Linked DNA regions of Homo sapiens. The protein of the gene in region 3 interacts with the protein of the main gene of each other region in a biochemical or structural test. Each region holds a gene or a part of one and is shown on either strand. Other genes may lie near its edges. The genes, in order: RALBP1, KHDRBS1, PALS2, KIT, MTMR1, RASSF6 and ADGRG1.

Region 1 (4,163 bases), on a different chromosome or scaffold from region 3:
TACTTCACTTTCAATAATGGATAGACTAGAGAAAAGATCAACAATGAAAAAGAAGACTTGAACAACACTATAAAGCAACTAGATCTATCAGACATCTATAGAACACCCCACCCAAAGACAATGTAATACGAATCCATCTCAAGTGCACATGGAACAGTCTCAGGACAGATCATATGTTAGGCAATAAAAGATGCCTCAATAAACTTTAAAAGACTAAAATCATACAAAGTATGTTCTCTGATCACAATGAAATGAAACTGAAAATCGATAACAGACAAAATGTTGAAAACTTCAAAAATATGTAGATAATTAAGCAACACACTTGACAAACACTCAACAAAGTACTCAACAAACTGGGAACATAAGGAACATCCTTAAACTGATACAGTGTATCAATGAAAAACCCACAGTTGCCAGGCATGGTGGCTCATGCCTATAATCCCAGCATTTTGAGAGGCTGAAGCAGAAGCTTGAGCCCAGGAGCTCCAGACCAGCCTGGGCAACATAGGGAGACCCTGTCTCTACAAAGCATACAAAAATTAGCCAGGCATAGTGGCTCATGCCTGTAGACCCAGCTACTCAGGAGGCTGAAGTGGGAGTATCACGTGAGCCTGGGAGGTCAAGGCTGCAGTGAGCCATGATTGTACCACTGCACTCCAGCCTGGGTGACAGAATGAGACCGTGTCTCAAAAAAAATAAGAAAAGAAAGAAAAACCCACAGTTAACATTATACTAAATGGTAAAAGACTGGAAGCTTTCCTCCTAAGATAAGGAACAAGACAGGGAAGTCTGTTATTGCCACTTTCATTTAGCATTGTATGGGAAGTTCTAGCCTGGGCAATTAGGAATGAAAAATAAATAAATAAAAGATACCCATATAGGAAAAGAAGAGGTAAAACTATCTCTGTTTACAGACAGCATGATCTTATATACAAAACTCAAAAGAATACACTAGAAAACTATGGGAACTAATAAGGAGTTCAGCAAAGTCACACGATATAAGGTGACAGAAAATAAGTTGTATATCTAAACACTAGGCAATTGTGAAAAACAATTGTGAAAAACAAATTGAAAAACAAATTTAAAAAACAATTTCATTTGCAACAGCACCTAAAAAAAAAATAGAAATAAATTTAACCAGGGAAGTGAAAGACTTGACACTGATAACTACAAATATTGTGCAAGAAATTAAAGACAAACTAAATAAGTGAAAAGACATCCTATTGTTAATGGATTGGAGGACTTAATATTTTTAAAACAGAAATACTACCCAAAATGTTTTACAAATTCAATGCAATCTCTATTAAAATTCCAATGGCCTTTTTTACAGAAATGGATCCTCAGTTTCATATGGAATTGCAAGGGACCCTGAAGAGCCAACAAATACTGGAAACAGCAAAGTCGAAGAATTCACACATCTCAATTTCAAAATGTACTACAAAGCCACAGTAATCAAAACAGCACATGGTACCTGGCATAAGGATAGCTATATCAACCATGAGAATCAAACAAAGAGTCCAGGGGAAAAAACCCAGACATTTGTGGTCAACTGATTTTTCAACAAGGATATCAGGACCACTCAATCAGGAAATAATGGTCTCTTCAACACATGAGGATGGGACAACTAGAGTACCACATGCAAAAAAGTGGACCCCCTCTGGCAGGGCGCAGTGGCTCACGCCTGTAATCCCAGCACTTTGGGAGGCCAAGGTGGGTGGATCACTTGAGGCCAGGAGTTTGAGGCCAGCCTGGCCAATGTGGTGAAACCCCATCTCTAGTAAAAATACAAAAATTGGCCGGGCGTGGTAGCGCTCGCCTGTAATCCCAGCTACTCGGGAGGCCAAAGCATGAGAATTGCTTGAACCTGGGAGGCAGAGATTGCAGTAACCTGAGATTGTGCCACTGCATTCCAGCCTGAGCGACAGAGTGAGACTCTGTCTCAAAAACAAAACAAAACAAAAAAACGTGGACCCCTATCTCACACCATATAAAAATGTGGACCAACAACTGAATATAAGAACTAAAACCACAGAACTCTTAGAAGAAAGTATGGAATAAATCTTCATTCCTTGGATTTGGCAATGTAGACATGACACCAAAAGCCTGTGTAACAAACAAACAAAAAAAAACAGATAAATTATACTGTAAAATTTAAACTTTTAATGCATCAAAAGTATATTATCAAGAAAGTGAAAAGACAACCCAGAAAACAGAAGTATTTGTAAATCATATATCTGATAAACATTTAGTAACCAAACATACAAAGAACTCTTTCAATAACCAACAATACAATTCAAAAATGGACAAAGGATTTCAGTAGATATTTCCACAAAGAGAATATACAAATGGCCAATGAGCACATGAAAAGATGTTCAACATCTTAGCCACCAGGGAAATGAAAATCTAACCCTCAACATGATACCACTTCACCCCAAGATAGCTAAAATTTAAAAAAGCAAATGGCAAGTATTGGCAAAGATGTAGAGAAATTGGAGAATTGGATTATAAAATGGTGCAGTCGCTTTGGGAAACAATTTGGCAGTTCCTCAAACTGTTCAACAAGAGTTACCACATGAGCTGTTTTCTAACAACACTTCTGACACCACATGTGGAAGTGTTTTTCCATACCAATACAGTTCTCCAACTTTCCAGACACCAACTGAGTGCCCTATAATTCAATTCTGACACTAACTGCCCAGAGTTTATGTCAGACTCCACAGGCTTAGTTCCACAAGACTACCCTCACTTCAGTTACCAGCCACAAGCTGCACATTGCCACCTGTACTTCTGACCAAATAGCTATAAATAGGGGTTCCCACAACCCCCTCCTCATGTTCAATAATTTGCAAGAATGGCTCACCGAAACTCAGGGAAACACTTTACTTATGCCTATCAGTTTATTATAAAGGATATAAATAAACCACCAAATCAAAAGGCACAAGGGTGAGGCCGAGATGGGTTCCAAGTATAGGAGTTTCTGTCCCATGAAGTTGAAGCAACACCTTCCCAGCATAAGGATGCATTCACCAACCCAGAATCTCTCTGAAAACCACTGTTTAGAAGATTTTATGGAGGTCCCATTTCACAGGCATGATTGATTACATCACTGGCCACTGATAACTGATCTCAATACCCAGTCCTCACCACCACCCCCTCACCCATCCAGGGGTGGGGCTGCAAGTTCCAACTCTCTAATCAACACAGTTGGTTCTTCTGGCAACCAGCTTCCATCCTGAAGTTGTCTAGGGGCCTACCAAGAATCACTTTATTAGCATAAATTCAGATGTGACTGAGAGACTTATTATGAATTCCAAAATATGCTCTATTACCTCTATTACTCAGGGAGTTCCAAGGATCTTTGAAGTTCTAGGCTAGGAACCAGACCAAGACCAAATATATATTTCTTATTGTATAACATCACACCCAGCAATTCTACTCCTAGGTATATACACAAGAAATGAAAACGTATGCCCGCACAAAAACTTGTACATGAATATTCACACCAGCATTATTCAGAATAGTCAAGAAGGAGAAACGACTTAGATGTTCAACTGATAAATGGATAAATGAAATGTGGTATATCCAGATAAGAGAGTACTGTTTTGCAATAAAAAATATGAAGTGCTAATATATCCTACAATATGGATGAACCCTGAAAACATTAAGTGAGGGAAAGCAGTTGCAAAAGATGATATATATGGTTTCATTTATATGAAATATCCAGAATATCTGAAATATCAAGAGATACAGAAGTAGATTAATGAGGGCAGGGGAAATAGTGAGTGACTACTGCTAATGGGGAGGTTTTTTTGGGGGAGTAATGAAAATGTTCTAAAATTGACTGTGGTGATGGCTGTACAACTCTGTATATACAGACTGTCCCCAACATACAATGTTTCAACTTGGGATTTTTCAACTTTACATGGTATCCATAAAATCATTCTGTTTTTCACTTTCAGTATGCAATAAATTACATGAGATATTCCACACTTTATTATAAAATAAACTTTGTGTTAGAGGATTTTGTAGGCTAATGTAAGTGTTCTGAGCATGTTTACAGTAGGCGAGGCTAAGCTATGATGTTAGGTGCATTAAATGCATTTTCCACTTACAATATTTTCGAATTGCTATAGGTTTATCAGGATGTAACTGTGTCGTAAGTA
Region 2 (4,163 bases), on a different chromosome or scaffold from region 3:
TCAGCTTACCGCAACCTCTGCCTCCTGGGTTCAAGTGATTCTCCCGCCTCAGCCTCCCTAGTAGCTGGGATTACAGGCATGTGCCACCACGCCCGGCTAATTTTGTATTTTTAATAGACAGGGTTTCTCCATGTTGGTCAGGCTGGTCTCGAACTCCCGACCTCAGGTGATCTGCCCTCCTCGGCCTCCCAAATTGCTGGGATTACAGGCGTGAGCCACCGTGCCTGGCCCACACTGCCTATAAATTTTTGCCCTATCAATTTTCACATCATCTGACACCACATTTAGTTCTAATTCCCTCATTTAACATTCAAGAAAACCAAGGACTGTATCTTACCTCCTCCTAGTTTTCTGATGAACACATGACGCTTACTCAATTCTACTTAATAATATTCCAAATCCTTCATAAGTCTCCAGATTCATCCTTGTTATTAAATATTCAACAGTAGTATGTTAACTCTGACAACCACCAGGCCTTGCTAAAAGGCAAAAATAGTACCATTTCCTATTTATTCAAAGTAATATTCCAACCAAGTATTCAAAGGTGGTAACAAGCAAGATAGATAAACTGGCCTGTCCCATCTCTATCTAGTCCTCAGTAATAGTCTGAAAAAAGCTGCTCACCTATCTGTTAAACATCAATAGTCAACCTCTTCCAAACTAAACTCGTCCTCAGCAAACTCCTCCAGGAAAGAAATCCCTGAGTGTGCTCAGGTCAGAATTTAACCCAATAACACTAGATGCTATAAGCTTCTTGCTGCTAGTCTCTACTCTCTACAGCATGAACTTCTTGAGTGCAGAGACCCACCTTAGTCACTTTCCTAACACAATCTCCTTGTTCCACACTACTACCAAAATACTCAGCTAGGTGAAGACCCTGTTAAACCTTAGTTAACCAAATATCAGAATGCAGGCACACTGTGGACCCGAGATACTGACAAGATACCGGTACACAATGAAAACCACATTAGACAAGGAGGGATAGAGTGGCCTTGGAGCATAATGCTTTGAGAACTAGGTGCAAGTAACGAACTACCTAAGGAAAATGAACATAAGTGCAGAATTTGGTATACATACAGGTTATGCAGAGACCTTAGTTAAGAACCCCTACCTTCACAACAGTATAAGATCCCAGTTCTCTTTTGCTCAGAAGACACAGGATATGGATTTCCTTACCGGTACTAGAAATTTCTTGACTTCCTCCATGGCATGGGCCATAAGAGCATAAGCCTCACATGGGGGTCCAAAGACTTCAATGAAGACATGCAGATCCATATTCAAGTGGGCATATTTGGGGTCTCCACCTTTGCGCAGCTCTTCCTCCTATGGAAAAATGCAGAGAAATGTCACACCATGGACTAGGGAGAAAACACCACCTTTACCTCTAAGCCAAAGGAACAGCAAGAAATACCCCTAATGTCCATGAAAAACAGTAAAGTTAATTGGTATGAGCTGAGAAGAATTAAACAAAAAAAGAAAAAAGAAAAAAGAAAAACAGTAAAGTTTAAGAAAGTAAAACAAGCAGCCAGGCGCGGTGGCTCACGCCTATAATCCCAGGACTTTGGGAGACTGACGCGGGAGGATCACAAGGTCAGGAGTTCGAGACCAGTCTGACCAATGTGATGAAGCCCCGTCTCTACTAAAAATACAAAAATTAGCCGGGCATGGTGGCGCACGCCTGTAATCCCAGCTACTCAGGAGGCTGAGGCAGGAGAATTGCTTGAACCCGTGAGGTGGAGGTTGCAGTGAGCCACTGCACTCCAGCCTGGGCAATAGAGCAAGGCTCCCTCTCAAGAAAAAAAAAAAAAGTAAAACAAACTCTCAAGAACAGTAATTTGCACAGCCTGCTAAACTTGCACATGGTCTGCTGCTTACAGTTAATTGTTGTCTTAAATCCCTGAGATATCCATTGGAGCTCCTACTAAAAGCATAAAGAAGAAAAACTTAATTCTAGTCTATTCAGATAATAGCTGTTTGCCAAGCATTTGTTTTTAAATCACAGGTAGAGCTGTTAATCACCACGAGCTCTGCTTATCTGCTTATATGGTCTAGGGAGTGGTAGGGGAAGAAAGAAGTCAGGACAGAGGGAAGAAAAGCTCATGTAAATCTCATTAGTTAGAACACACTTCAGCCGTAACTATATGCATCTAGCAAGAAATGACCTGAGAAAACAAACATGTGTCCATTAGACTACATAAAAGGAGGGTTGAAAGAATTGGTTTTTGGACTGTAGCAGGAATATCTCATCAAATAAGGTGACCCCAGAAGGCTAAGACTATTCTGTTTTGGTGAGAAGTTTCTTGTCACAGAGTACACAGCGTACGCGGCTATGGCATGGGGAAAAAAAAGACGCATTAGATTCTGTAGTCAGGATTACTCATGGTTCCTTTTGGAATACATTCTTTTAGTGAGCCTCACATTCCAAACCGGCTATAAAACAAACCAACTAATCCTCAAACTCATCTGCTCTCACATTATTGTTCTCACTTTTCCAGGTTACAAAAAAGGGGGTGTGCTATTTGCATTTTAGCGTCTTTTGTCTGCTTTAGACTAAATTTTAGTATATTCAGTTCCCCTTTCAAGTTTTCACAGACAATCCTACCAATGCGCAACATGCTACTGCTGTTTCCATTACTACACAGTCAAAAAGTCCAAAAGAAAACTATCACCAGGGCACACCTAGGCTCTTCCAGGGTTGCCAAGCCAAGTAAATTAACTTGGTGTATAATCTCTTGCATCCAGTGCAAACTTAAAGGAGCCACATTCTGTACACATACAAAATTCTTGCCGCCTCTATAAGACATCCATACTGCATTCTGGGCAAGTAGAAGGCATTAGGATGTCCTCTTGCCTCACTAATGTGAGCTTACCTTGGCTTTGTCTCTCATTGAGCCCTTTCCCAATACAGAGATCTTTGCACCAGTCTCTTCCTGCAGTCTTTTGATTGTATTCCCTTGTGGTCCAAGAATCTTCCCCACAAAATTGAACTGACAGAAAATAGAGGATTTCTAAATATACATGCTACTATATAAAAACATTTCCACATAAATTACCTCACTTGATTTTAAACAACCCTGCAAAGGTAGAGTATTACCATTCCCATTTTACTGAAGGACACTGAAGCCATATTAATAAAGTGATTAGCTTAAGGTTATGAAACTAGAAAGTGGCAGTTCCTAGACCTGAATTTGGCTTTTCTGATGTATTCTGGTGCTCTTCCATAATACATTAAGACCTTTACTATTTTATTTTTTACTTTATTTTGAGACAGGCTCTCACTCTGTTGCCCAGGCCAAAGTGTAGTGACACAATCATGGCTCATCACAGCCTCAACTTTCTGGACTCAAGTGATCCTCCTGCCCCAGCCTCCAGAGTAGCTGGGTACAGGTGCACACCACAACACCAGGCTAATTTTTGTATTTTTTGTAGAGATGGGGTTTCGCTATGTTGCTCAGGCTGGTCTTGAACTCCTGGGCTCAAGCAATCTGCCTGCATCGGCCTCCCAAAGTGCTGGCATTACAGGCATGAGCCACTGTGCCTGGCCCAGCACTTAACATACATCAACATTTTTAAGGCAGTGACCTCAGAACAGAAGAGACTATATAGCACCCTTTGATAACACGCTGGATAAACTAAATGTAACTAAATGCTTTCCTAAAAAAAAAAAAAGGAAGAAAAAAAGCATTTACTTAAAAGTAAACTTTTAGTAAGAAAATAAAATTAACTTCAACCAATTGAGGATTCATATTATATTTCCTTTTATTTAGATTTCAGGTTAGTCTTTTGACAAAGAGCAACTCTTCAGGTTTTAATTTTTTTTTCTTTGAACTTGTAGCCTGAGCAATCATTTGAGAAAGAAACTTTTTGATAATAAAAAGATGATTATATTTCCTTCCTGGCTATAGCTATGTTATTAGTTAAGAACTTAGATATTTCAACTCTCAGTAACAGGTACTACAAGCATGAAAGAGAAGCTTCACAGGCTTAAGTTTCTAAAGCATCACAATCCCCAGGAGTCTTTATTATAGCCCATGACTCTCTCATAACTATAAAGATAACTCAAAGATCCAAAGCACTTTTTGCCTTACCTTGGGATACTGCTTGACAGGTATCAGCACTCGCTCTTTCAGTTTCATGTTCTTATGAGAAAATAAATCCAAGTA
Region 3 (3,784 bases):
CGCCGCCTTAAAAAGTGGGCAAAGGACATGAACAGATACTTCTCAAAAGAAGACGTGTGTGTGGCCAACAACCACATGTAGAATAGCTCAATATCGCTGATCATTAGAGGAATACAAATCAAAACCACAATGAGATACCATCTCACACCAGTCAGAATGGCTATTATTAAAAAGTCAAAAACTATCAGATGCTGGCATGGTTGTAGAGAAATGGGAACACTCATACCTTGTTGGTGGGAGTGTATATTAGTTCAACTATTGTGGAAAGCAGTACGGAGATTCCTCAAAGAGCTAAAAGCAGAACGACCATTTGACCCAGCAATCCCATTACTGGTTATATACCCAGAGGAATATAAATCTTCCTACCATAAAGACATGCATGCAAATGTTCACTGCAGCACTATTCACAATAGCAGACACAAATCAACCTAAATGCCCATCAATGACAGATTGGATAAAGAAAATATGAGATATATACATACACCATGGAATACCATGCAGCCATAAAAAAGAATGAGATCATGTCTTTTGCAGGAATATGGATGGAGATGGAGGCCATTATCCTTAACAAATTAACACAGGAACAGAAAACCAAATACTGCATGTTCTCACTTCTAAGTGGGAGCTAAATGATAGTATCTTATAAACACAAAGAAGGAAACAACAGACACTGGGGTCTACTGGAGTGGGGGGTGGGAGGAGGGGGAGGAGCAGAAGAGATAACTATTGGGTACCAGGTTCAGTATCTGGATGATGAAATAATATGTACAATAAACCCCTGTGACACGTGTTTACCTATGTAACAAAACCTTCACATGTGCCCCCAAACCTAAAAGTTAAAAAATGCAAACAGTTAAAAAAAATTATCAACGCTAATCAGATATCCTCCATTATTATCTCTAAACCTTAGTTCTACCTATAAATGAAACACTTTTTTCCAATAGTAAATATTTCTTTATATATACAAAAATATTTTACCAGGAGTATATAATCTCACAGATTAGACATTTCAATAATTTTTGTTTTGGACAGCACATGGAAATATGTGAAAAGATTTATAGGGACAGTTTCTGAAAAATCAATACTTAATTGTACCACAGGAAAATTTTATTTATACAACAGCAATAATGTTTCTTTTATACAGAAACTAATAATACAATTACCTGGAAAGCAGTAGCAATTAATTTTTCTTTTTAAACTTCTTAATCAGAAACTTTAAGCAGCTTGTTCAGCTTTGATTTTCAGATTGCTAACAAGCATTCTGCCCTCCATTTTTTTTTTTAAAGATTCTCTTCTACAGTTACTTCAAAAACTAGAGGTTTAAAAAAGCATGCGTCTTGTGTTCAAATAAAAGACTTACCAAAACGAACTGGCGTGGGGGGAAAAGGAAGAATAAAAAATTCCCACAGCAAGGTTTTCACATCAAATACTCACCATAGGCTCCAACAGAGCTCAACATAACATGGAGAAATTGCACTTGTTGCTGAATACTAGTGCTCATTCTTCTACAACAGAGTCCAACATATCACTTCTTTAAAAAAAAATCAGTGTTACTGAAGAGACAGGAGCCAGTCAGCAGTTCTTTTTAAAAGAGAATACAGAGACATAAGAAATATTTTTATTGTATTTCAAATACAGATGTAGCTGAGCTATGCCTGAAATCTGGTTCTACCTGAAAAGATGGAGGCATTTCTCATTTAGACCATGTTTACCAGGACAAGCTTTATGTCTTTAAAGCAATGTTACTTACACTACTGTCCACCTCTCCTATTTAAGAATAAGATGAAAACCACACATTTTAACTGGTAATGACTTCTGGTTTAATGTTGGTAATTTACAGCTGATGAGTTTTTACATCAGATGAGTATGCTTTTTTCCTGTTTTAGTTAATTAGGCTTCCTCCAAGCTCCTAGGCTACTTTGATAGGAGGAGAGCCAAATTTCATATATGACCTGTCATATTTATGTATGTTCCTTCCCCTGGCTTGCTGTTGGCTGAAGTACAATAAAGACATCTATTTCCAATTTTAAGACCTTTTTGGCTTCTGTGGTAGCAACACCACCTATTTCATAAGATTCAAAGACAGTTGCTTTACAAGCAGTAAATCACTCAATCTTCTGATTGGTGGCATTTACCTTAACTATAGATGTGTTCATTCCATTTACACTGGAGATTAGAAAACAGTAAGAGCCAGTAGGAGGGGAAAAAAAGGAAGAGAACTATCCCTTCTGATCGACTTTTGTATGTGGAGATAAGTCAAATTTATCACACCATTGCATTATCAGCCAATGACTGAGAAGCAATTACAAAGTAATAACTAAAGTGGATTAATATCTGGATTTTGAGGTTCACAAACTAAGACCTCACTGTGAATGTTTCTTTCTATAAAGAAATAGATGCCTTTTTAAATTAATGGTATGGGTAAAACAGTAGGGCTGCAGTGATTTCAGGTATGCAGTGATTTCAGGTATAAGGATAAAGTAGGACAGTTTTCGGGGGCAAAGATCAGAGTCTTCTGGTGTAACCGAGTACTGGATTGCTTGCTTACATTTTGTTTGATTTGTGAGTGGTCTGGTTGGCAGCAAGGATTTGCTAAGGGTTTGGATTTAGTATGGGATTATAAGATAAAAGGGACTTTCTGATTAGGACTAAGAGAGCAGAACAGACCTTCCACCAGCTGAAACTGTATCTTTGGGGCTATTTTAAAACTGGAAGAATTCCTGAAAAGTATTCACCATTCACTACATTACTTCAGAAACAGGTACACTTTAAAATAACTAAAAGAGAACAGATAAAGTAGCCTAATAAGGATTTTTCAGTTCACCATATCACAGCTACCACATCAGAGTTACAAATTACAAATCAGAATTTAAGGCGAAGACAAATATTAACTTAGCCTTACTTAACAAGTAGAATAGTAATGATAAAGGGAAATATAAATTTCATCGAAGATCACACAGTCAGAAGTCAGAATTAGGATCTTGGCCAGTACCCTGTCTTTACTTTTATCACTAGAGAATATTTTTTAAAAAGTACTGCAGTGTATTGCCAAAGTGGTGTGAACCATGCTTACTTTAGAAATGAGATATCATCATTCTTTCACTGTTTAGTATATTAAGGACTCATGTTCGAATCTCTGCATTTTTCAAAAACTATTCCAAGAACACAGAAGCTAGCATGATGAATTATGGGAAATATTTTAAAAAGAATATAAATTGCAAAACGTTAGAACAAAAATGCAATTTAAAAATAACCTTACCTTAAAAAAATTATAGAACTGTCATCTTCCTCAGGTATACAATATATGCTTGCATAAAAACTGACAAGATGCTCAATTATTAGTCAAATGTATTCTTAAATTTTGTGAGTATTCATTTGTACTATATACAATAATCCCATTATTTAAAAGAATGAATTTCTCCCAAAAATTCCAAATACATTACAGATGTTATTACATGAATTCTCACAGCAAACCTCTTGAAATAAGACAAGGGCAGGTATCATAATCTCAGCCTGAATCATATTAAAGATTCATTCAAAAGTTTAAATAAGAATTTCCAAAGGGGTTTCCATCCAGAACCCTGCCCTTTTTCCCTAAGAAAATTAAATTTATTATAATAATGACTACTTTCTGAGTTTCTCATATATTTTTCAGAAAGATTATCAGCTTCAAGGTGGAACCAGAGCGTTTTAAAACAATCTAAAAAAAGTTTCAGAATGTCAAAGAAATGGGAGTAATTAAAAATTTTAGAATGCTAGTTATAATTACATGAATGAATACATT
Region 4 (4,163 bases), on a different chromosome or scaffold from region 3:
ACCACTTTTTGTTAGTTTCTCCTGGGCATGTGCTCATTATATGAAGAAATGAGCCATTTTGCTTCTTTCCGAAACCTTGGCCCTATATATATCCTTTAACTTTCTGATATAATGGCCTAAATTGTTCAATCCTGTGTGATGTTCTTTGTGCTTTGGGATCCCATATGGGATTGGAACCACCAGCACACTCTGAAGGAGATTGTTGTCATGGTGTTTCTATGCTAATCAGAAGCAGGAAGTACTAGAAATCTTGAAGAGTCTCCAGCCAAATGTTGCAGATTGAAGAGGTCCAGATGGTTCAGAAAATCATCCAAATTATTGGTGTTTATCTGAACCAACTTGATTTTTTTTTAAACCTTCCTCCATCAGTCACTATATGTTAACGATCTCTGCCTCCTGCATAACACGTCTTGGAAGCTCTTCTTTGTCTTTCTTTCATCTTGTCTCCTGGGGCTCATTTAGAGAGTTTGAGGTAATACGGGATACCATATTTGGCTCTCTGTCTCCCATTAAATTCATTGTGTCAAGAGACGGGAAATTTCTAACCTGAGTCCTCTATATGATTATACACAAAAAGGACACCTAGTTTCTGGGCATGGACCCCAATATCGATTATTAAAAACTCATTTCTTACAGAACAGGATTTTCAAACTCTTTATTCAAACTTTACATGACTTTCCTCAAATTGGTCCAGTCTATTATGTAGCAAAGGGGATGAGGAGGTAGAGCATGACCCATGAGTGCCCTTCTACATGTCCCACTTGATTCAGTCATGACTTGTTTCATCTCTCCCAGCAGCGATAGTACTAATGAGTACATGGACATGAAACCTGGAGTTTCTTATGTTGTCCCAACCAAGGCCGACAAAAGGAGATCTGTGAGAATAGGTGAGTACCTACCTATCAAGCAACCAAGAGTAACTTTACAGAGAGTATGTATATCATGCTAATGTGGAATATAACATCATTCCCAGTAGCAATGATGCAGACCAGTTCTGCTTTATGGTAGCAGTGCCAATGGTCAATGGCAGTTAGGGTTGCAAGTGGGTGTTTGGGGTCAGAGCATATGTTTTTGTGCCTGAGTATCTTTCTATAGATATGGGATCTTTGCTTTAATTCGCCATCCCTCTCCTCTATGGATTTTGTAACCCAGCCTAGGATTGTTAAATATTAACTTTGTGATTCAGCATCTACCTTTCCTGGACACCAGGGAAGTGATCTGCCTGCAAGTTCACATTAGTTCATTCATTACCAGCCTTTGGTATGTCATTGCCACTGTCTTTTCCTTTCCTGACCTTTATGGTTGTAATTGCTAAGAAAAATCCTCTCTTCCTCACAGGCTCATACATAGAAAGAGATGTGACTCCCGCCATCATGGAGGATGACGAGTTGGCCCTAGACTTAGAAGACTTGCTGAGCTTTTCTTACCAGGTGGCAAAGGGCATGGCTTTCCTCGCCTCCAAGAATGTAAGTGGGAGTGATTCTCTAAAGAGTTTTGTGTTTTGTTTTTTTGATTTTTTTTTTTTTTTTTTTTTTTTTGAGAACAGAGCATTTTAGAGCCATAGTTAAAATGCAGAATGTCATTTTGAAGTGTGGTAACCAAAAGCAGAGGAAATTTAGTTTCTTCATGTTCCAACTGCTGTCTCTTTGGAATTCCTGTTCTAATTTATAAGCTGTAAAGTACAAGCCTGTCTAAATGAGTTTTTCTATGAATATTCTTTTATATGCAGTGAAATTCTTTTAAAACTTTTGGCTTTTAGGATATAGGATATGTTCCTAGAGAACAGAATCATTTTATCAGTAAAAGCAGAGGGCACCTCATAGTTACAAGGCTTGGGGTGAAGCATAGACTTGAGTTTTATTGAAGTTAGATCCAAATATTATATGTGTGGCTTATGAAGTGTCAGGAAATAAGGGGTCAGAGGGAGTAATAAACACTTGGGAGAAGGTTAGGAATGGAAAGAATGATGGAACCAAAACAAGGAGCATGGTCTGTGGAAGGGTGAAAGGAGTTCCTTAGGAAGTAAGATTAACCGAACAGAATGAGTTACCAGTCCTACCCTTAAATGTCATGGGTGACATTTCCCAACAATTACCAAACTAAGAAAGGATATAAGATGGCTGAAATAAAGACCTTCTTCCGTGTGTCCTTGGGAGATGTCAGATTGAATTTGCAAAGGCATATTAGGAACTCTGTGAAAGGACATTCAAAGAGATGCATGCAAAATGAATTTTCAGTTTAAACAATATGATATGACTATTTCTTATGTATTTCCCTATGAATGAAAGCAGTCCTGAGAAGAAAACAGCATTTATTAGAATTGCTTTTAAAAGAGATTATAATAATTAGACTCTTGATTATGTGAACATCATTCAAGGCGTACTTTTGATTTTTATTTTTGGTGTACTGAATACTTTAAAACAAAAGTATTGGATTTTTTATAATATAAGCAACACTATAGTATTAAAAAGTTAGTTTTCACTCTTTACAAGTTAAAATGAATTTAAATGGTTTTCTTTTCTCCTCCAACCTAATAGTGTATTCACAGAGACTTGGCAGCCAGAAATATCCTCCTTACTCATGGTCGGATCACAAAGATTTGTGATTTTGGTCTAGCCAGAGACATCAAGAATGATTCTAATTATGTGGTTAAAGGAAACGTGAGTACCCATTCTCTGCTTGACAGTCCTGCAAAGGATTTTTAGTTTCAACTTTCGATAAAAATTGTTTCCTGTGATTTTCATAATGTAAATCCTGTCTAGGGATATCACACATTTTAGCAGTCAAATTAAGTATACTTCAGCAAAATTTGCATGGTATGCTGAACATTACTACAACTAACATTCAATAATAGAAGTCCTAATTCTAATTGTGTAATTTTGGGGCATGTGAAGGAAACAGAAATAGCCTTAATTTTCATTATAGCCTGAGAATAGCAATGAACTTGATTTTGCTCAAGTGTAACAAATGTAGGTCATTGAAGGTCACAGCAGGAGAAATTTTGGGGGGATTGGCATGCCGTGTGAAAAATATTAAAATCTAAGATCATATTCAGAGTTAGCCATATAGAATGTTGGATCCTAGAATACACGGAGAGCTATTAAATAGGTTCATAAGTAATAATGGGTTTGTAGAACATAGCAAATGTTTTTCAAAGTGCTGTATTTCCTTGCCAATTTTTATTGAATCCTCAGAACAAACCCTTGTCCTATAATTGCAGCACCTTCCTATTTTAAAAGTTGGAGAAACTAAGGCATGGCATATTTTAGTGCTTTTTATCTGAGGTGACACAGGACAATAGAGGCTGAAACTAGAGCCTGTGATTTCCAGAGTGGCATCCCATCGCCATGGAAAACCATATTGCCCTTTATAATATTCTCTGCCTGTCTTCCTGGGCCCATTTCTGCAGTCCAGATTTATTCCTGGAGGTGGATTTTTGTGCCCCTTATGATAATGTAATGTTTTCCCCCCATCACTGTGGCGTCTCTATTGGTAGCCTGTACTCGATTTGGTTTTGTAAGAGTGTTTCTGTGTTTATCTCCTGGCCAAAGCATGAATTTCTGAAAAGGCTGCCCTGAAGCTAGATATTATCATCAGGAGTGATAATAAAAACAACTTCTCTTCATCCTGGTGCAATTTTGGAAGGAAGAATGATAAGTCGTTAATTATCCAGTCCTCTGAATATTGACCAAAGGGAGGAGGAAGAAGGTGGCCGCCTCCAGGCCCAGTCTTGATGAATTCTGCAATCTGTCTCCATTATTTCATGCCTGTGTAATTTTGTCAAGAGTTGTCCAATACCTCTGAATCTTTGTTTTTCTCCCCTTGGGAATAATAGTGATTCCTGACTCAGAAAGTTATGAGTTAATATATGTAAAGTGCTTATGACAGTGCCAGACATATTGTTACTATTCTTTATAGATGTCTTATTTACGATCTAAATAATCGTGACGGTGGTTACATACTGTCTTGTTATTGGTTAGTGACCTTAGTTTGAAATGACAAAGAGGGGTTGGCTCTATCAGGCTTCCAGATTGTAGACTCCAGTTCAAGTCAGTTGAACTAACCAATCACAGATCTCGCTTTCACCAGGCTAGTGGGTAAGGAGAATTTCTGGAACAAGATAAGAAGAAGGAAACTCATATATGTTACCGCCCCACATTTTT
Region 5 (4,163 bases), on a different chromosome or scaffold from region 3:
GGATTTATCCCAGGAATGTAAGGAGGTTTTATTAGCTTCCTAAGGGTGCTATCACAAACTGGGGGACTTAAAACAACATAAAATTTATTCTCTCACAGTTCTGGAGGCTGAAAGTCCGAGATCAGGGTGCTGGCAGAGTTGGTTCCTTTAGGAGGGTATAGGGAAGAATCTGTTCCATGTCTCTCTCTTAGCTTCTGGTGGTTGCTGGAAGTCCTTGGCACTCCTCAGCTTCTAGCTGCATCATTTAAATCTCTGCCTCTATTGCCACATCGCCATCTTCCTTCTGTGTGTGCCTGTGTCTCTACATGGCTTTCTTATACGGACACTAGGCACTGGATTTAGGGCCAACCCTACTCCAAGATGGCTTCATCATAATTAATACATCTGCAAAGATCCTATTTCTAAATAAGGTCACATTCTGAGGTTCCAGTTGGACAAACTTTTGGGAGACATTTTTCAATCCACGACAGTGGTTCAACATATAAAAATCAACCAATGCAATACCAATGCAAGAAGAAGATATGAAAGGCAGCCAGATTGTAAAGGAAGAAGTCACATTATCTCGACTTGCATATGACATAATCTTATATATAAAGAACCAGTGGAGACCTAGAAAATACTGTTTCCTAGACACATATACTGCCATAGTTAAAATTATTCTAGATATACAATTTAGTGTCCTGTCTCTATCTCTCCTGCATGGGATAAAACACAATGAACTGCCCTCACCCTGTTGGCTAGTCTGAAGATGGCCTCCACCAATATGGCTTTTCTCACATTTTGTAATTCCTTGGGATATGGTGGTGACAGGTGGGAGGCAGAGATGTAGAAAGACTGACACAGCTAATGATCCAGATGTGGGGAGCAAGGGGGCCTCACTGAGGGATGCCTCCCTATGGTAGGCTGAAAAGTGGCCCCGCCAAAGACATCCACATCGAATCCCTGGCAATGGTGAATGTGACCTTATTTGAAGAGAAGGTCTTTGCAGATGTTTAAGGATCCTGAGATTTGCAGATGTGTTTAAGGATTCCAAGATTAATTGAAAAGAGGGTCTTTGCAGATGTGTTTAAGGATCCAGGATTATTTCAGGTGGAACCTAAATGTCATCACAAGTGTCATTAGAAGAGAAAGGAGGAGACGCAGAAACCCAGAGCAAGAGAGGGTCATGTGATGACGGAAGAAGAGATTGGAGTGATGTGGCTGCAAGCCCAGGAAGGCTGGGGCAGCCACCCCATGCTGGAAGAGGCAAGGAACAGATTCTCCCCTTGAACCTTTAGAGGGAGCAGAATTGGCCTCCAGAATTGTGATCAATACATTTCTGGTGCTGTAAGCCAACAAATTGGTAGTAATTTGTATGACAGCCTCAGAAAACTAATACTTCCCCATCTTCCTCCCTGCCCTGTTCCTCTCCCAGTCTTCCCCATCTCAGTAACAGACACCACTATTCACCCTCAAGTCAGACACCTGGGCAACACCCTTGACCACAGGGGTGGCGAGCTTATCAGCATCATGTACTGTGCCCTGAGGATGCACTCACCACTGTGCTAAGTCATTTACATGCATTCTTCTCACTGAATTTTAATCCTCACACAACCCATGACATGAGACACTGATATTATCTCCTGTTTTACAGAAGAGGAACCTGAGGCACAGAGAGAGGTTAAGTAACCGGCTCAGGATTCTAGAGCACCAAGTGGCAGAACCTGGAGGAAAACCCAGGTGTAACTGATTCCAAAGCCAAGGGGTCTCACCAACTTGCCATCGTGCCTCTCAGGCCAGTTGGAATATACGGAGGGTTTGTGGTCTGGGAAACAGCCAAGCAGAGATGTCAACCATACAATGGGATAGAAATCCAGTCTCAACCTTAGGAGGGATCAGGACAGGAGAGAAACTGCAGTGTCAAGCTCAAGTTGAACTCAGCATACAGACAGTGTTTAAAGCCGTGTCATCAGAGATGGCCCCAGGAGTCTGTGTAGAGCAAAGAGGACCCCAGACCAAGTTCGAGGAGCAATGCCATTTGAAGACTGGGAAGAGAAATCAGTGAAGGAGATGGAGAAGGCCAGGCTGAAGAGCGAGAGAAACTCAGGGTGTGATATCATGAAAGTCATGGGAACGGAGGTGTTTTTAACCATGTCTCACTGCCACCCGAGGTACACTACACAGGTGCTCCATGAGATTTATGGAAACTTTGTACATTTACACATTTCACATGGCTGATTCCATTCTAAAAGAAATTCAGACCAGACATGAATTAATCAACTAACCACTATATTCCTTAAACGGACTTCCAAGGACCTCACGATCATTTCATTAAAATGCTAAATCCTTTAGATGATAATTGTCTTTCTAGGTCTTTACTTAATTGATTTAGCAGACAGGATATTGTAGAGAAGCAATGAAACAGACAAGATCCCAACCCATGTGAGACACCAAACACAGCCCAAGGAGCATACACCAGGGAGGAATAGCTATGGGACTCCAAATGATTCTAACTTCAGGTGGTGAGGAAATCAATGAGTTATTCCAACTGCATAATGATTTACAGACAGGACATGAAAATATCCAGTGTTTCTGCAGTGCTATTAAGAATATACCTTGTTGGTATCAGCGACACTGTTTTGTCGAGCATCAAAGATGATAAGCTTGTGTGACTGTGCGTTAGCATCCATTATTGTTTGCAAGTATTTTTCATCCTCTTTGCAGCGCTTATCATTGGGACCCACAAGTGGCTGGCTGCAACGGGTAATCGTTGCTTGACTTTCCGGATGAATCCATGACAACACCTAGTGTTTTTAAGCAATAAATATTAGTACAGTTCCTAAAGAATGTATGCTCTAATTACCTGGTAGGAAAAACAAGTTCCCTTCTCAAGCACGGTCTCTTATACATATTTTCTTCAAAAGTGAGAGTGGGCAGGCCAATCACAGCATTGTAGTGGCCATCAGACTCAATGTTTTGGTCAGGATGAAACAATTCTGACTACATGAGCTCTAAAAATCCCCTTCCATCCCCAATATTCTATGATTCTAAGAAAAACAAATCCTAAATCAAACTATTACTAAAATCTAGCCCCATTCCAATTTGATTGACTAATTTTACCTTGTCTCCTAATTTTAAAAACATCTTTGTATCTCAACAATAATATACGTGGCAGGGTAAGGACAAAGTGAATATACAGTCTCTTATAAAATCTGACACTCTGCCACCCCACCTCTCATTTTCCTCCAGTGGCCAAGTGACTCAGGATTACAACAGATGCAAACTCTGGGCTCAAACCATTACTCCCAGCTGTCTGCTACTACTTCTGTAATGATGTCCCTCCCACGCAGCTATGGCATCATGCTCAGTATCTAAGAAAGAAGCATTTTCTCTAGGATGATTCAGTGAAACCAGCAATGCCAACTGGTAATACAATAGCATGATAACTTGTTGTTGCTACTCCTTTGTCATTCTCTACTACTTTTTGAGGGTATGACTGAAGTTCCCCTTATACTTAGTTATAGGAAATCGTAAAAGAGGGAGTCATAGCAAACAGATTGTTTATATAATTAGGTATTTGTTGAGAATCAAAGGTATGTTCAGGTTTATAAGCTTATTTTTCTGCTTTCCATTTTTGTTCACTAGTTTCTTTTTTGTCTTAAATCTCTCCATATTAGATCTAACGCAATATATATTCCTATATAAATGACAATGTTTATTACTTACAGGGACTCTGCCTTTTGCTCGAAAAGCTGCCACTTTTGAAAGGTCATCATCTTTTACACTAGTTGGCACAACAATGATGGCAGGGTAGGTGTCACAGAACTCATAATTACTGTTTATTTTGGATATTTTCCAACTCTCATTTGGCAAGCCCTGTAAGGTGTTGGAGAAAGAAGAAGAGGGTGAAATGCATGACTTTACACTTTGAAAAAGTACTAAGCATGAAGTACATCCATTTCTTATTTGCAACTAAAATCCGTTTATAATTTATTGTTTATTGTAACTTAAAAGTCAATATATATATTTATTCGGTAAAACCCATTTCCTAGACATTTCTAAAAATCTAAAGAAGCATAAGAATATCCAAACCATACTAAAACATGAAAATTATACGCTAGAATCACATTTCTATATATTTCTTGTCCTATTTTCTATAAATAATGAGCTCTGTTATTTTTGAG
Region 6 (4,163 bases), on a different chromosome or scaffold from region 3:
TTCCTTTAATCTTAATTTATTGGGGAGTGCATTTTGTGGCATTTCAGAGTGTTAGAGCTGGAATAAACCTGATACTTTATCAGGTTTGATCTCTTACAGGTAAGAAAAAGTACAGTGAGTTGAAGTGGCTTTCCTATGGACATAGTACTCATAAATGATAGAATCAGGTCTGGATCCTTATTTTTTTATTTTTATTTTTATTTTATTATTATTATACTTTAAGTTTTAGGGTAATGTGCACAATGTGCAGGTTAGTTACATATGTATACATGTGCCATGCTGGTGTGCTGCACCCATTAACTCGTCATTTAGCATTAGGTATATCTCCTAATGCTATCCCTCCCCCCTCCCCCCACCCCATTATATGTTGGCCCAAGTTCTTTGGAGCTTTTCCTAAAAAATAAACACTGGGCCTTAGTTTTCCTATAAAACTACAGAAAGCTCTTTGAGAAGCTATTTATATGGTATGTGGAGCATTGAAAGATTTTGTTCCCATCTTTTATAAAAGCAAAAGGAATAGTATGCTTTGGACTAGTCCTACTATTTGTAATATATCACATTATGTTCTTTTTAGAACATTCCAGATGTATGATATGAATGACTTTTTCACTTAGTTGTCCACTATCCTATTATTTCTTCTCATTGAGTCATGTATATTTAACAATGATTCATAATTGATTAGTCAAAATTTGGTTACTGAATTATTACAATTTCTATAGCAGATTTTAGAGTATAAAATTATAGTGTAGCGTTGAACAACTCTAGTATCTATTGAGTAGGCAGAAGGTGTTTAAATGGAATTGAATTGAGCTACAATGTGTTACTAGCCTAAGATGCAGAAGATTCAAACCTGCCTTCTGCCCCCCTTTCTGCTTGTATACAATTGATAGTACCTTTTTCAATTTCCTCTCCTATGCATATTCATATGTAAGAATAAGACCATGTGGTGGCATTTGTGTTTTATTTTACTTTAGGATTTTAAAAAATTTTCTACTGTAATTAGAACATTATCAAATAGGCATGAGATATTTCTTCCTTCTCTAGCACTGCTGTTTAAATACAAATATATTTTTATGATGTCTTTGATGCCAAGATACTGGGATTTCCTTGGGTTTCATATATATTTCTAAAAGATAATTGGAAGGGCCGATATTTAACAAGATGTAAAGATCCCATGGCATAAAGAGAAAAGGGAACCCTGGAAGGAACATCATGTTTGTCACAGGATCTGGGTTCCTGTGGAATAGCAGACGAGGCAGAATTGAGAATGATTTGAAAAAAAAAAAAAGAGAACAAACATTGCAAGTTGCTGGTAGGCTTATGAAGTTAATGCTAGTGGGATACCTTTGTTCACACTGAACTGACTTCGTAAATCACAGCCCCATTTCAGGCACATGAACCCTGTCCACCACCCCTCATTCTAGCTTCAGTCATCAGCATCCACTACTCTTTGAATCTTATGTGTTTATGAGAATTACATGAAAAAATTCATATAAAGTACAAAATATTATGCCTGATACTTACCAGAGTCTCATCAGATTACAGCTATCAATATCACTATTATTACTCTCACATCATCACCATTATGATTATAACTACTAATGTCACACATCCCTGGAGCTGGCATTTCCCATTGGTTTGCCAAGTTCAGTATGGATCCATTTGATCCTTAAGTATATTTCTCTTTTAAAAAGATCTCTGAAATAACTCTATCAAATATAAAATTGACTCCAGCATATCTGTGTCTTTCTGAGAAGTAATGTTATTGACATATCTATTAACTAACTAAAACGTTCAACTTCTAAAAAGATACAGAATTAGGTCTGATGGGCTTGGCCTAACATATAAAGCTATTGGGAATAATAAATGACTCTAATCTTTGGGGAAGATATTTAACAATTTTATGAATACAAACTTTATTAAAACTATTAGCTCTCCCTATTCTAATAAATCTAAGTGACATAATATAATTTTTTTAAGAATTATATTTTTATATACCAAAGTAAGGTTCTTAAACATCATACAAGCACTATAGTGACTTAAGTTACTATGCTCCTAAGATATTTAAAAATATATATACATATAAAACAAGAGTTTATTGTGTAGTAGTATGAAAAAGGTTAGATTTCAGAGAAACATATGGAGTCATACTTTACACTAATTAAAAATTAAGTCTCCCAATCAATAAGATTTTGATACTGACCTTCCTGGGAATTCCTTTTTTCAGACATAGGAATCTGGGTCCTGTCCAGCTCACTAATACGATAGAGATCGTCAAATTCCCCCCAGCGTGTCATTCTGAGAAGTAATAAATCTTGTAAGTACATCAGTTCCATTTATATTGAAGCCTATGATGGTTTCCAGATTTACAATATTAATATAGTAATACTGTGGGCCTCTGTAGGTGGATATATTGTCCAAAGTTATAACAATTTTATGATATTATTAAAATTATATTCATACCAAAGTGGTCAATATATGTTTTAAATGCTTCCTGTACTTTTATAGAGCATATCTTTTTGACGTAATAATTCAGTTACATACTGAAACACAAGTTATATAGATTCTGTAAAACATATGTCCAAATTGAATTAGTAGAAACCAAGATGATCAATTGTTATAAAGATATTTCACAATACTCTTAGGGGAGCTTGGGTATAAAAGTGTTCTTTATACATTCTGTCAATATGTATTGTACCTTTTGCATTCAAAACATTGTTAGGTAGAGTGGCTCTAAAATAATAAAATATAGTGCCTATCGTTTAAGGCCCTTGACTACCATGAAGAATGTAGTTTACGAAGGAGGAAAATGTATGAGAATTTTGCCAGAAAATTATGATTTCATAAAGAAACTAGCAATTTTAAGTGCATTCTAGTGCTCAGAATACATGAAACCTGACAAATGTTTATTTTTACGGCAGGTCAAAACTCAATTTTATTTTATTTATCTGGTCTTAAACAAGTTTCTTATCCCCTCTGTGCCTGTGTCCTCATCTGTAAAATAAAAATGATAATAGCATGAGGTAGGATAGGGTTGTTTTGAGGATTAAAAGAGTTAATTTGTATAAAATTCTTGAATCAGTGCCCTGAAAATAGTAAGCATTCAATATAGATTAACAATAATTATAATTATCCTCATCTCCATTGTCATCATCATCATCATCATCATCATCATCATCATCACCAGCATCTGTATCTATTTCATTCCTGATGGGCCAGGAACCATTAGGGACCCAAGGTGTTCCTGGATCTCTCTAGGCAAATGGTTGCTATTATCTAAGAATCTCTTCAGTAATGTCTGTTTTTCTTATGACTAAAATATATTCACTTATAGGGAATTTATGGCATTGACTCTGCCCGAATTTCATTGGTGGCAACAAAAAATATTTATTAATACTAATGGTAGTGAATATGAAGAAAGTCATCCCTTATCCTCTTTACTTTTGAATTCTTTTGAAGCGTGTTTTATGGCTACTATATCATTTGAGTCTCACAATAGCCTTATGATGTAGAGAAGGTAATCCTAATATATTTGTTAATTTTCCAGCAAGCTGTACTATTCAGAATACAGCCAATCAAAACAAATGTCATAAAGCCCAACTACAGGTAATAACTTTAACTCAAAGGAAAACTACCAGGTCCTGACTCAGAATCTAATTAGTCTTATGGCAGATAAAATTACCCATTTCCCCAAATCTATAGCAGCTTAATAATCAGAAAGTGGCAGACATAATTATCGTAGAAGGGGGGTTAGGAATGGAAAAGTCAATACCAATGAAAAACAGAAACTAAAAATGCAAAGTAACCTGATGCTATGTCATAGGGCTAAAGATAAGAATCCCCAGGATGCCAGTCAAATTCTCGGTGACCCTCGCAGACGTGACAGCTTAGTTTTGTCACACAAATATAGGAGGCCAAAAGTCATCCAATATATTCTGTGTTTGGCCCCTTATTTTTTTCTACCATCTACAGCAGAAAACACCAGTTTTCAGCTCTGGATTGTGTAATTTGAAGCATCACCCCATACAACTGTGCACATGACTAAGCTTCAGGGCAGTTATCCAGAGTTTTCAAGAGAAAACTGGTTGGAACTTTATGTAATATCAAATAGTTTAACTTGCCCAAACATGGGACTTCTGTTGCTCTGACTAAAGTTCAGGATG
Region 7 (4,163 bases), on a different chromosome or scaffold from region 3:
CCACCCGCCCCATTTGGACCTGACTGCTCGATCAGGCAATCGTTTCATTATAAAGACAAATGAGTCTGGAGGGAGGGAGAGGAAAGGGTGACATGGCCGAGGGGCGCTTGTTCTCTTGATGGCTGGCCCCCACTCACCGGCTGTAGCTGGTGCTGGAAAGTGAGCACCACGGGCTCCGTGAGGTTGGCTACTTTGGTGTTCTGTACCACAATCCCCAAGACCTTCTCACCCAGGACTTGGCTGGAATTCTTGTCCTAGATACATGGGGTTGGAGGAAGAGAGTAGGGAGGGAGTTCAGGACTGAGAAGAAGGGCCCAGAAGCCCCTTACCCTCTCTAGATAACCCTCTCCCAGCACATTGCCTTGAGATGCTGCGTCTCCCTCTGGAACCACTTTTGCCCATGTAGTCATTTACACTATAGTAAGAAGAACATTGCTTAGCCCTCTCACAGGGAGATTTGCACATTGCAGTGCAATTTGTAACTTTACAAGGAAAGGCTTTGACTCCCAGAGGAAGGAGCTCATCTGCGTGCCTTCTTTCCACCTCTGTCAGAAAAAAACTGCTTTCTCCTGGGAGGCATGAGGGTGAGGACCCCATACCTGGAACAGGGCTTGGCTGCTGAAGTCCACCAGGAGGAGTCTCTTCTCAGCCTCCCCGCTCCGGCCTTTCGTCCTCTGGAAGAGTGTTCGAGGCAGCAGCACCGAGTACTCCATGATCTCGCTCTGCTCCTCCTGCAGAGGTCCCTTTAGGGCTCAGCCAAATGCGGACCCCTAGATCCGTGCCCCCCACCCTAGCACACACACACACACACCCATCCGTTCCTGGACGCTGCCACTTCTAAGCCCATTTCTTCAGGAAGTCAAGCCTGACTCATGACAGCCCTCCTCATCCCTCCCTTCCCTGCTACCAGCTCTGGCTGGGGAGTCTTGTGGTTAGAATCCAGGACTCCAGGGCAAATAGCCCTGGGAGAACCACATGATGTTCTGTTGTCTGGGGCTTCAGATGCCAGCTCTGCCTACAGCAGCCAACTTGGGGGTGGCCATGTGGGCAGTGTGGGTGGTTCCCAGCTAACCAGAGCCACTCAGGGGGCAGTCTCAAGATGGGGTGTGTGGCTGGGTGCAGTGGCTCACGCCTGTAATCCCAGCACTTTGAGAGGCCAGGGCGAGAGGACTGCTTGAACCCCGGAGGTCAAGACCAACCTGGACAACGTAGCAAGACCTTGTCTTTACAAAAATAAAAAAATGTTTTTTGAGACAGAGTCTCGCTCTGTTGCCCAGGCTGGAGTGTAGTGGCACAATCTCAGCTCACTGCAACCTCCGCCTCCCGGGTTCAAGCGATTCTCCTGCCTCAACCTCCCGAGTAGCTGGAATTACAGGCATGTACTACCATGCCCGGCTAATTTTTATATTTTTAGTAGAGACAGGGTTTCACCATGTTGGCCAGGCTGGTCTCGAACTCCTGACCTCAAGTGATCTGCCTGCCTCGGCCTCCCAAAATGCTGGGATTACAGATGTGAGCCACTGCACCTAGCCTTGCAAAGAATTTTTTAAAGCCAGGTGTGGTAGCAAGCCTGCAGTCCCAGCTGCTCACAGGCTGAAGTGGGAGAATCGCTTGAGACCAGGAGTTTGAGGCTGCAGTGAGACATGATTACCCCACTGTACTCCAGTCTGGGTGACAAAGCAAGACCCTGTCTCGAAAAAAAAAAAACGGGGGGGGGGGGTGCGTGGACAGGCGTTTAGGGGCTGGTCTTCTGTTCACACGGGTGGCCCCAGGAGACTGGTATAGGAAGCAGACCCTGCCACTGTGCCCACACAGGGTCCTCAATCCCACGGTTGAACTACTGACTTAGGATGGCTATCCTCGGGCCTGGAACCTTCTCGGGAGGCCCCAGGGAGAGGCTGCGACGGCACTGAGCTTCAGGGAGTGCTCACAGCCCCCACCTCCATCTGGCCCCGGCCCAACCCGCATCTGCTTCCTGCCCAGGCCTGCCCCTGACCTCCTGCCGGGAGTGGATGTGCAGGTCCTGGAGGCCGGCTGTGGGCTGGAGCTTCCACACCGTGGCGTTGATCCGGTCCTCCTCGAAGGACACCATGTCCCCCATGAATCTCACAGAGGTCAGTTTCGACTCCAGGCTCTGCAACTGCCTGGCAGGGAGGAGAAAGCGGTGGTGATGGTGGGGAGGGGGCCGGGCCACCAGGGAGACTGAGGCAGGAGGACGAGAGACTCAGACAGAGACACAGGGAAGAGGCAGAGGCAGAGGCAGAGGCAGAGAGAGGGGTGGGGTGGGCAAGAGAGAGTGGAGAGCAGACAAAAGAGAAAAGCAGGCATCTGCGTGTGGGAGAGAAAGAATGAGCTGGGGTAGGGTCAGACAGAGGAGGCCAGGACCTGGGAGCCAAGGGAAAGGAGAGCAATGGTGTGGTGGGGGCTGTCCTGGGACTCAGCACCATGGGTTTGGGCCCAGCTCCGCCTGTGCCAACCTACTCTGTGGCCTTGGAGCGGCTCTGCCGTCTCTGAGCCTTGGTCTGCTGGGCTGTACTGTGGACCACCCATCCTTTCTTTATGAGGGGGAGGAGGGCTTGGGATGGTGGATGTGATGTTGGTTACTGACTCAGACAGGAGAGGGCTCAGCCTGGGGGGCATGTGTTGACTCCCAGAAGGCAGAAAGAGAAATCAAAGAAGCATTCCAGTCCCAGGGAAGGCCTCGCAGTAGCCCCTACTCCAGGTCCCACCCTGCCCAGGTCCAGATCTCTGATGCCTTCCTGCCTCCCCTCACAGCCCCAGGTGCCAAACTTACTGGCTGGCGGGGGCAGCCGAGGGCCTCCTTGAGGCCTTCTGGGGATGCTTCAGGAACTGGCTGAGCAGCTGGAGGTCCCTTTTGAGCTCGCACATGTCCACCGAGGCATTGTGAGCGGCCGTGTGGGGAGGACCTGGGGGAGGGGTGGACAGGCCCCCGCCGAGGCTGCCGATTCAGGTCCCAGGACCCTCCCATTCTGCCCCCTACCACCCTGACATGACTCTGAATGCCTCGATCTTTACTTTACAAAGGGGAAACTGAGGCTTCAAGAAGCAGAGTGGACTCTGCCAAGGCCACTCAGATGAGGCCAACCCGTGGGGGTTGTGTCTTACAGAACCCGCCAGCAATGCCAGCCCCAGCGGGATGGGGTGGGATGTGCCTTGCTCAGCACCCTCCGCAGACACCTTCGGCTACACACACGGAGCAGAGAGGGCCCAGCCAGGCCTCCTTAGGAGGGATGTGCGGGGCTTGGTGGTGGTTCCTGGGACTCCACACCCACCAGCCTCCCTGACTCCAGGCTCGGGCCCCTCTGCCCAGGTAGCGTGGGCGGCCTACTAAGGCGGCCGACTAAGGTGTCTCCAGGGATTAGCTGGGACTCAGATGAGGAAGACAAACAGTGGGGGTTGGAGGGTATACTTTCTGTGCCACTGAGGAAGGCAGGCCCTGGGTAGCTCCATCTTTTGAATGCATAACCGAGAAAGCCTGGGTTTTAGGTGATTTGAAATCCCTGGTCCATGTTTTTTAAAAACCCTCTACAGGCCAAACAAGACCAAGTTCAGTCTGGTCTTCAGAATGCCAATTTGCAACTAGGATCAACTTTGCCCTAAATCCTCCCAGGTTGCGGGGCAGAATCCCAGCCTGGGGTGTGGGGAACCCCCCACCACTGACGGGCCTGGGCCTGCCTGTTGCACTGGACATAATCATTAGCCTGTTACACTGACACAATCAAAGTGCTGTGCCCCCCACCCCTGAAAGCCCTGCCTCAAACTTGAGGTGCTGGAAAGACATGAAAACCCCCCAGTAAACCTTCAAGCTCCTTCTGATGCTCCTCCCTTCCTGGCCACCATTCAGCATTTAATGGTGCTGAATGGCAGTGGCCACATGTACCTGTCACACTCAAGGGGGAAGATGCAGCTTCTGGACCTCAGAGTCAACCCCACTGCTTTCCTGACCTTTGACCTCTCATACTCCGCCCCTCACCCCTACCCCACTCCAATCAGCTGCTGGGTTCAAATCCTGGCTCTCCCATTGGCTAGCTGTGCAGCTTTGGGCATCCTCTCTGTGCCCCAGTTTCCTCCTCTGTGAAAGGAAATAAACAGTCTACACTGATGCTGAGGAAGAATTCTTCCTGGGGCTCTTGATCTTCAGT

What was found.
Region 1: the proteins of PALS2 (region 3) and RALBP1 interact in a test that uses a peptide from one of them, tested with the Homo sapiens proteins (one large-scale study listed by IntAct).
Region 2: the proteins of PALS2 (region 3) and KHDRBS1 interact in a test that uses a peptide from one of them, tested with the Homo sapiens proteins (one study listed by BioGRID).
Region 4: the proteins of PALS2 (region 3) and KIT interact in a test that uses a peptide from one of them, tested with the Homo sapiens proteins (one large-scale study listed by IntAct).
Region 5: the proteins of PALS2 (region 3) and MTMR1 interact in a test that uses a peptide from one of them, tested with the Homo sapiens proteins (one large-scale study listed by IntAct).
Region 6: the proteins of PALS2 (region 3) and RASSF6 interact in a test that uses a peptide from one of them, tested with the Homo sapiens proteins (one large-scale study listed by IntAct).
Region 7: the proteins of PALS2 (region 3) and ADGRG1 interact in a test that uses a peptide from one of them, tested with the Homo sapiens proteins (one large-scale study listed by IntAct).

The regions. Positions count from the first base shown.
Region 1 is NC_000018.10:9,481,485-9,485,647, reverse strand, and holds part of RALBP1 (ralA-binding protein 1), read right to left. Parts: intron 1-4,163. UniProt on the Homo sapiens protein: Multifunctional protein that functions as a downstream effector of RALA and RALB. As a GTPase-activating protein/GAP can inactivate CDC42 and RAC1 by stimulating their GTPase activity.
Region 2 is NC_000001.11:32,030,348-32,034,510, reverse strand, and holds part of KHDRBS1 (KH domain-containing, RNA-binding, signal transduction-associated protein 1), read right to left. Parts: coding exon 4,089-4,163; intron 2,988-4,088; coding exon 2,871-2,987; intron 1,324-2,870; coding exon 1,177-1,323; intron 1-1,176. UniProt on the Homo sapiens protein: Recruited and tyrosine phosphorylated by several receptor systems, for example the T-cell, leptin and insulin receptors. Once phosphorylated, functions as an adapter protein in signal transduction cascades by binding to SH2 and SH3 domain-containing proteins.
Region 3 is NC_000007.14:24,691,499-24,695,282, reverse strand, and holds the end of PALS2 (protein PALS2), read right to left. Parts: 3' UTR 1,090-3,784; downstream 1-1,089.
Region 4 is NC_000004.12:54,730,533-54,734,695, forward strand, and holds part of KIT (mast/stem cell growth factor receptor Kit isoform 1 precursor), read left to right. Parts: intron 1-795; coding exon 796-887; intron 888-1,338; coding exon 1,339-1,466; intron 1,467-2,537; coding exon 2,538-2,660; intron 2,661-4,163. UniProt on the Homo sapiens protein: Tyrosine-protein kinase that acts as a cell-surface receptor for the cytokine KITLG/SCF and plays an essential role in the regulation of cell survival and proliferation, hematopoiesis, stem cell maintenance, gametogenesis, mast cell development, migration and function, and in melanogenesis.
Region 5 is NC_000023.11:150,731,162-150,735,324, reverse strand, and holds part of MTMR1 (phosphatidylinositol-3-phosphate phosphatase MTMR1), read right to left. Parts: intron 3,856-4,163; coding exon 3,706-3,855; intron 2,784-3,705; coding exon 2,595-2,783; intron 1-2,594. UniProt on the Homo sapiens protein: Lipid phosphatase that specifically dephosphorylates the D-3 position of phosphatidylinositol 3-phosphate, generating phosphatidylinositol. Could also dephosphorylate phosphatidylinositol 3,5-bisphosphate to produce phosphatidylinositol 5-phosphate.
Region 6 is NC_000004.12:73,585,637-73,589,799, forward strand, and holds part of RASSF6 (ras association domain-containing protein 6), read right to left. Parts: intron 2,299-4,163; coding exon 2,204-2,298; intron 1-2,203.
Region 7 is NC_000016.10:57,651,967-57,656,129, reverse strand, and holds part of ADGRG1 (adhesion G-protein coupled receptor G1 isoform b precursor), read right to left. Parts: intron 2,928-4,163; coding exon 2,795-2,927; intron 2,145-2,794; coding exon 1,997-2,144; intron 732-1,996; coding exon 600-731; intron 255-599; coding exon 138-254; intron 1-137. UniProt on the Homo sapiens protein: Adhesion G-protein coupled receptor (aGPCR) for steroid hormone 17alpha-hydroxypregnenolone (17-OH), which is involved in cell adhesion and cell-cell interactions.